Linked DNA regions of Homo sapiens: region 2 is linked to region 1. The links come from fine-mapping of genetic effects on gene expression. A gene starts in region 1. The other region holds a variant in brackets. All regions are shown on one strand. Distances are from middle to middle.

Region 1 (4,392 bases):
TAAATTATGAAGTGAAACTACCAAACATTGTAGAGATATTGGGCTCTAGAAAGTGCTTCCACTGTTGCTCCCGATTAAGGGGTTTAGATAAAGATGTGCCTTATTTTACATGGACATATTGCATAATGAAAAAAAATTGCCTTATCACATGCTGAACTTACTCTCCAAATAACAGAAATCCCACTTCTCTGGGCAAAAAGAAAAAAAAATTGCTGAGAAATAATGAAAACCTAAAAACAATCAAAATGTCTATTACTGGCCAGGTTCAGTGGCTCATGCCTGTAATCCCAGCACTTTGGGAGGCTGAAGCAGAAGGATCGCATGAACTCAGGATTTCAAGACTAGCTTGGGCAACACAGGGAGACTCTATAAAAAATACAAAAAATTAGTGGGGCATGGTGGCGTGCTCCTATAGTCCCAGCTGCTCAGGAGGCTGAGGTGGGAGGATCACTTGAGCCAGGGAGGCCGAGGCTGCAGTGAGCTGTGACCCTGCCACTGCACTCCAGTCAGGGCAACAGAGTGAGACCCTGTCTCAATTAGAAACAAAAACAGTTGGCCAGGCGCAGTGGCTTAAGCCTGTAATCCCAGCACTTTGGGAGGCTGAGGCAGGTGGAGGTCAGGAGTTCAAGACCACACTGGCCAACATAGTGAAACCCCATCTCTACCAAAAATACAACACAAAAAAATTTAGCTGGGCATGGTGTCGCACGCCTGTAATCCCAGCTACTTGGGAAGCTGAGGCAGGAGAATTGCTAGAACCAGGAGGTGGAGGTTGCGGTGAGCCGAGATCACGCCATTGCACTCCAGCCTGGGCAAGGGAAAAAAAACAGTCTATTACCTGAAAAAAACAGTTAAATAAATTATGGTATACCCTTACTATAGAATAGTAGCCAGCCATTAGAAAGAATGAAGTAGAGCTATGTTTATAGTGTGCAAGGATCTCATTAAGTAGGGAAAAAGAAAAACCCAAAACAAAAATTTTTTAAAAATGAGCTGAGCAGAACAACTTGTATATTATTATCCTACTTAGGTAAAAATGAATTCCCAACCTATGTAAAAATGTATGTAAATAAATAGAAAGATCTGGAAGAATAAACTTCAAACGAGTAACCTTGGGGAAGAAGGATTGTAATGGTGGCTGATGAAAGAGGATGTACCCTTTTAAAGTGTACAATTCAGTGTTTCTAGTACATTCACAAAGTTGTGCAGCCATCACTATTATCTAATTTCAGACCATTGCATCATTCCACAAAGAAACCTATAGTTCGCAGTCATTCTTCATTCTTCCGTACCCCAGTAAAATTTTAATTAAAATTAAATTTAATTAAAATTAATTAAAAAAATTAAAGAATGATAAGGGAATAACTTAGAACTTCTAGAATGTTTTTTCTAGATTTGCAGGGGGAAGTGGGTAGAATCCAAGAACTTAAGCTCTCTTCTCCAACTATGCATAACCGCAAAAGTATGCCCAACTATACATATGTTTACGATAAAATGACAGAAATAAAAATCCACCACCCTCAAATTCCTTCTGTAACAGAAGTTACCCGTCTAATCACTCAAGAAATCTTATCCCCAGACATTGTGGGCAGAGCGGAGACTGAGGAGGGGAGGCCAGAAAGTGATGGGCGGAGGTGGGCAGGAGGGTACTCGACGGGGTAGGTGGAAAATACAGCGGTACAGCCTGTTTTCCATAGACAGTCTACCTCTCTAACCTTCATTAAACAAGTAGGCTAGATTAAAGAAATAACTCCTCTAGCTCAAGGAATTTGCCCTCTAGTACATTAACCCCTTGTTGCTGTAAGTGTAGCCTAGGGACCAGCAGCATTGGTGCCATCTGGACATGTATTAGAAACGCAGATTATCAGACCCTACTCCTCAATCAGAATTTGCACTTTCACAAGATCCTAGGGATTCGTATGTATATTAAAGTTTGAGAAAAAACGCTTTCCTGCACGCTCCAAGGGCACTTCACCACAGTAACCCCTAAAAAGCCTCAGTCCTGGGTCCCCCAGTCCAGTGCCTGGTAGGGCAGGAAGGGGGCGGGGCTAGGAAATGGGCGGGGCCCTGGACCAATGAGGAGCAGAGTCCCAGCCGCCTGCTCCCTTCAGCTGCCCCCTCCACCTTCACTGCACATTTGGCTAGGATATACAGGGCTACCTGTCCTCCTTTTCCGGCAGAAGCCATCTCTACGGTTCCTGGAACTTGGCCCGTTCAGCCCTGGGCCCGGAAGCTCGTTCTGACTGACAAGTCTACGGAACCTCGGAGTCAAAAGAACCGCCATAAGCTCGCGCGCTGGCTCCTCCCCTGGCACCATAGCCCCGCCCCACCTGACACCCGGGGCGGAGAGAAGTACTGGCTCCGCCTCTTCCGAACCGGCAGGAAGTGACGTCATGCCCCCGGCCGGCAGGTCTTTTAGTCTTTTTCCCCCTCCCTTACTCTTCGTCCCCGGTCCCTCCCCTCCCCACCCCTTTCCTTCTAGCTCCGACGTTTGCGGCCGCGGGGGCGGCGGAGGATATGGAGTAAAGCCAGAGTCAGTGGCCAGGCACGAAGGCAGAGCAGGAACAGCCAGGAGGCGTTTATTAGGGGGGCGGGGGGAAAGAGCCCCAGCACCGCCCCTCCTGGAAGAAGGAAGAGGTAAGTGACCGGCCGCCGGCACCGACCGACCTCCCTCACCGGCGGCTCTCTCGCCTGGGCTCCCGGAGCCGGCGAGGAGGGAATGGAGGACTCGCGCCCGGGTTAGGCCTCCCAGGGCCGCTCAGGCTGGTGGGTGTTGCCTGGTGACGGGCCTGCCGGCGGCCGGCCGGGCGATCGGCGGTCGGCGCCCGCGCAAAGCGGGGCTGGACGAGCAGCGAGCTCCGGGGAGCGGATCCGAGAGGGCCGAGTCCTCGAAAGAGGCCTTGAGGCGACGGGAGACCCGGGATCGAAGTCAGCTGCCGGAGGGAGAGCCCCCCATGCCGGCTCGAGAGCTCGGGTTTCGGTGGTGGAGAACGTAGTACCTTTCGGGGACATTGGACACTACTCTAGGACCGGGTGAGAGAGTTCACCTCAGTTCTGAGGTCCGGAATCCGGTAGCCTGGGTCACCAGCCAGGGCCCTGCCGCCCGCCGTCCTTCTCTGACAGTAGCTTTAGTTCTGGAATGGAAGGTTATTGTGTGTGAGGTGGGTGGGGCAGGGGTTTTGTTAAGAGAAAAAACCCCACGGTTACTCCTGCAGTCTTGTTTTTCTAAACGGGAGAATACGGATGGAGGAGGGTTTAGACCGATAAAGCTTGCAAAAACTTATTGGACTTTGAGCACATACCTGTGATCCGTAATTAAGGAGGCCATATTATCAAATCCACCCTCTAAGGCACTCGAGGAGGCTCCAGACAAGCTGCTTAAAAGCGCTATGCCTGTAGTGACTTCATTGGAAGGTGTCAACTATTTTTTAGTACGTCAAACTCAGGAATTATTTGTGATGACACTTTCTAAAAACATTGGATACTATGAGTGAGTTTTCTAAGTAGCCTATCTCCGTTCTGAAAAATAAATAGTTTAGCAAAAATGCTCCAAATCAGCCTGCCACTGTAAAACCCCATTATGTTCTGGTGATGGCTTGAAAGTCAGGTGCTTGAAGATTCCTTTTGGACTTTGCAGGTTTGTTGTTGTTTGGTTTGCTGTCTTATTCTTTAGCACAAATATTTTTAAAATATTTAAAAATGAAATCAGCTGAGTATATAAATTACTTCTTGAGGCAACATTAAACTGTAATCATAAAGAATGCTTTTGGGGGATTGTGTAAAGGAAGGGAACCTAATGGAAGGTAAGGGCCTTCATTCTCTTTAGATTTACATTACTCACATGCAGAAACCTATTTTGTCTCTAAGATTCATAAATACCCAGTAAAATAAATACAGGCACATTGTACTTCTATACTGTGGAATACTTTCTAGACAGATCAACCCTGTTACTGGGAATAACTACTCATATTCACATGTTTGAAATTCATGATATACCTCCCTTCCCCCACCCCAAGAAGAAAAATAGCTCCTCTTACTGTGTTTAACTCCGTGGGTAGCATCACTATCCATTCCTTTGTATAGAAGTTGAAGTTTGACAATTCCTCTGTCGTGCTTCATACTCAGCCTCTCATGAAGTCCTGTTGATTTTGCCTCTTGAATATCTCTTGACTCTTGTCTGCTCTTCGTCTGTAACAGTAGTCCTGTTCCAAGCCACCACCATCTCTCATCCTGACTACTTCCGTAGCCTCCTGATTATGGTCTGCTTGCATCTACTGTGGTCTCCTGTAGTTTTCCAAACAAGACTTAGTGACTTTTTCAAAATGCAGACCTAATAACATTGTCTTAGTGTTTAAAATCTTTCAGTGGCTTCTCACCATTTTTAAGTAAATC
Region 2 (4,392 bases), 79 kb after region 1:
TTCTGTCGCCCAGGCTGAAGTGCAGTGCTGTGATCTCAGTTCACTGCAGCGATCTCGGCTCACTGCAGCCTCTACCTCCCAGGTTGAAGAGATTCTTCTGCCTCAGCCTCCTAACTAACTGGGACTACAGGCATCCGCCACCACTCCCAGCTAATTTTGGTAATTTTAGTGGAGACAGGGTTTCACCATGTTGGCCAGGCTGGTCTCGAAGTCATGACCTCAAATGCTCCGCCCACGTCAGTCTCCCAAAGTGCTGAGATTACAGGCATGAGCCACTGCTCCAGGCCCTGAAATTGATTTTATTATATTTTAATATTGCCAGGTATGGTGGCTCATGCCTGTAATCCCAGCACTTTGGGAGGCCAAGGTGGGTGGATAGCTTGAATCCAGGAGTTCAAGACCAGCTTGGGCAACACGGTAAAACCCCGTCTCTACAAAAAATACACAAAATTAGCTGAGTATGGTGGCATATGCCTGTAGTTCCAGCTACTTGGGAGGTTGAGGTGGGAAGATCACTTGAGCCCAGAGGTTGCAGTGAGCCGATAACGCACCACTGCATTCCAGCCTGGGTGACAGAGTGAGACCCTATCTAAGAAAAAAAAAATTAAAATATTTCTGCATGGAATTGATATAAAAAACTCACATTTTACATCTTTTTGGGTACTTAGTCTTTGAGATGCAGTGTGTATTTTACACTTAGCACATTTAACTTCAGACTAGTCATATTTCGGGTACTTAGGAGCCACGTGGCTAGTAGCTGCTGCATTAGATAATGTGGATATAGTCTGGGCTCAGTGGCTCATGCCTATAATCCCAGCACTTTGGGAGGCTGAGGCGGGTGGATCACCTGAGGTCGGGAGTTTGAATCAATGTTGACCAGGTTGGCCTCGAACGTGTAGCCTCGCCTCCCCGAGTGCCACGGCAACCGGCCTGAGCCACAGCGGCTCCCGAAGTCGGGAGTTTGAGACTAGCCTGGCCAACATGGTGAAATTCTGTCTCTACTAAAAATACCAAAAATTAGCCAGGTGTGGGGCGCCTGTAATCCCAGCTACTTGGGAGGCTGAGGCCGGAGAATCGTTTGAACCCAGGAGGCGGAGGTTGCAGTGAGCCGAGATTGTGCCACTGCACTCCAGCCTGAGTGACAGTGAGACTCCATCTAAAAAATAAATAAGACAATGTGGATGTATATGGAAGCTCGGTGACTAAAGGAGTGAATGATGGCATTTATCAACTTATGGTTTCAGTTCCAAACCCATCCTTTGCCTTGCCTTGTACTGTTTTTTTCCTTTGCCAGCTGGAAAAATGAGGGCCCCAGAGTGGCACTGCAAAGCAAGAGCTGCAAGAAGATACTTTACTTATGGTTGTGGGTCTCCCATTATTATCCACCATAGAAGCCCAGCAGTCCAAACAGAGGAGCTCCAGCTGCACCTCAGGTTACCTTCTCCCAACCCTGAGCCACTGTGGAGCAGCTCCCATGGGCTGCTTCCATGCCAGCTCTGCCACTCCATCAAGCAACTGTCTTCCATTCTGTGGCCCATTCCCTCGGACAAGTTTCTTCACCATGGCAGGCTGAATGTTCCTGTAGAAACCACACCCTCTCCAGAGAAGTCTGATCTCAGCTTGGGAGTGGAGTAGGGGAAGAGAGCCTCTCCTGGTCTTTAGTTCATTTTTTTTTTTTTTTCACTTTTCTTCAGCCTAGAGGCAGTATTTGCCTTTTACCTGCTACTTCTGTGCCCCTTAGAGTCCTCTTTTGCCCCTACAAATAATTTACCAGCTTCTACTAGTTAGCAAATATTATATTAAAACTTCCCTGTTCAAGTATCTGGTGTGGGGTTTCTGTCTCCTTACTTACCCTCACTGATAGAGCCTGAATCCAATAATAAGTCATTTTAAAATGGGGCCATAAATATATACTGCTATCAAAAGCCATTGGAATTGTGTTTACCTATCCTATATTAAAACTTTATGGAAGTTCTTTTGAAAGTTCCCACAGTAGAAATACAGTTTGGCTACTTTAATTATACCTACTGGATGCAGTTCCAATTTTTGTCTTTTTTCCTCCTGTGTTTTGGATATGTTCCTTTGTGTGGTGACCTTGGTTGCTAGTAAAGGCAGTGTTTGACTTTTATATAAAGGTAAATGAGATAGAGACGTTAATGTCTGTAGTTTGATTGTAGGAATAAACATAGATTTGCCCCAAGTCTATG[C/T]CCCTCAGCCTACCAGTCTTTTTGAACATAATGATCAGTCAAAACTCAAATGTGAGGCATATCCATGGTCACACTAGAAGCATATGGTGTATGAAGTTTGGAGCCAGAAAAAGGTGCTTTTATTAAAAAAATTTCAGGCTAAAATTGTAGTACTCACACTTTATAGACGTGGGGCAGGGTACTTTACACATTTGCGTGTTGTAACAGATCCAATTTTTTTTTTTTTTTTTTTTTTTTTTGTCTAAGACAGGGTCTGGCTCTGTCACCCAGGCTGAAGTGCAGTGGCATGATCTTGGCTCACTGCAACCTCCACCTTCCAGGCTCAAGCAATCCTCCCACCCCAAGCCTCCTGAGTAGCTGGGGCTACAGGCATGCACCACCACACCCAGCTAATTTCTGTATTTTTTAAAATTTAATTTAATTTTTTTTTTTTTGGTAAAGACAAGGTTTCACCATGTTGCCCAGGCTGGTCTCGAGCTCCTGAGCTCAAGCGATCCACCCACTTTGACCTCCCAAAGTGCTGGGATTACAAGAGTGAGCCGCTGTGCCCGGCCCCAAAATTGTTTTTAAGAAAATCTTGTCTCTAACATTTGGCACTCTTAAGATTGTATCTGTAAAGAGATGGAAAGGCTTTTCACTGAGGTGGGTGTCCTCATTAGACTGCTCACATTTTATAAGAGGTTGTCACGTCTGTCTCCAGCTACAGTGGTTATGTGAATCTGCCCTCAATCAGCAATGGTACCTGTACTCCAGCCACTTGTCAGAGAGCAACATTTAACTCTCTATTGCCCAATGGGCAAAATCTCGTTTTTGAGAGATGTTTATTGAGGAGGCCAAAAATTGAGTAATCCATTCATTTTCTCTAGAAATTCTGAATTAAGCCCACTCTTGAGACCTTTGTGCCTGGGTTGCCTTGTTTTCTCCATGCATCAGGTTTCTTTTATCACTGGTAGCTTTTGACTATGCTGTGAACTTGTATTTACGCCAGGGATGACATTGGTTCACTCCCACATAAATAGCTTCTTTGAGGACCCACTGGAGAGGTTTCAGGTTTCAGTTCAGGAGTCAATGTGCTTCTAAGCAAGTGGTTTGCCCTTCCTTTTTTTTTTTTTTTTTGAGAATGAATCTCACTCTGTTGTCCAGGCTGGAGTGCAGTGGCATGATCTCGGCTCATTGCAACCACCACCTCCTGGGACCAAGCGATTCTTGTACCTCAGCCTCCCAAGTAACTGGGTTTACAGGCACCAGCCACCACGCCTGGCTGATTTTTTTTTTTTTTTTTTTTTTGTATTTTTAGTAGAGACAGGGTTTTGCCATGTTGGCCAGGCTGGCCTCGAACTCCTGACCTCAGGTGATCCACCCGCCTTGGCCTCCCAAAGTGCTGGGTGGCGTGAGCCACCGCGCCTGGCCTGCTTCTACCTTTTAAAGTCCGCATAAAGTAACAGATTAGGTAATACAGCTAAGAGATTCAGCCAAATGTGCTGTTTACCTGTAGCAAATGTATAGGATAATAATAGTATGCAATATTCAATGCGTACCTTCTGGCTTTATCTGATTTTTAAAAAATCCTTATTTCTCATTTGCTCTGATTTCCTTTTAAAATAAGTTTTTTATCTATGTTCATAGAAATCCTCTTTTGGAATCAGGTAGAGTATAAACAGTTACACGGACTGAATGAGTGTAAATCTTGTCTCTTTCACTTAACTGACCAGAATAAGTTTTCTCAGCTACGAAATAAGATCACACCTTACAGGCCTATTAGGATTAGTGTGCAAAGTGTGCAAAGCACCTAGCACAGCTCCTGGCACATAGTAGGTGCTCAATAGATTTTTCCACTCACTTTGTGATGATATAGATCTCTAAAATAAACTCTGCTTTAATGAAAAACAAATACTTCACCTGGCTGGGCGATGTGGCTTATGCCTGTAATCCCAGCACTTTGGGAGGCCGAGGTGGATGGATCACTAAAGGTCAGGAGATTGATACCAGCCTGGCCAACATGGTGAAACCCCATCTCTACTAAAAATACAAACATTAGCTGGGCGTGTTGGTGCACGTCTCTAACCCCAGCTACTTGGGAGGCTGAGGCATGAGAATCGCTTGAACCCGAGAGGCGGAGGTTGCAGTGAGCTGAAATCGCACCACTGCACTCCCTCCAGCCTGGGCAACAGAATGAGACTGTCGC

What was found. PIP is the estimated chance that this variant, and not a neighbour inherited with it, causes the effect.
Region 2: its variant is the best candidate, but not a certain one, in a credible set for the expression of SCYL2 in whole blood (INTERVAL, PIP 0.56).

Annotation. Positions count from the first base shown.
Region 1 is chr12:100,264,760-100,269,151 of GRCh38, forward strand. SCYL2 (SCY1 like pseudokinase 2) reads left to right here and starts at 2,418. Exons shown (of 18, transcript NM_017988.6): 1 at 2,418-3,033. DEPDC4 (DEP domain containing 4) reads right to left here and starts at 2,320. Exons shown (of 10, transcript NM_001364818.2): 1 at 2,161-2,320. The coding sequence starts at 2,317. RefSeq lists enhancers at 2,163-2,242, 2,913-2,982, 2,993-3,052 and silencers at 2,613-2,662, 2,763-2,842.
Region 2 is chr12:100,343,629-100,348,020 of GRCh38, forward strand. No RefSeq gene overlaps it. Among named protein-coding and RNA genes, the nearest start is that of SLC17A8, 11 kb to the right of the region's middle. The variant C/T (reference allele first, on the strand shown) is at 2,208.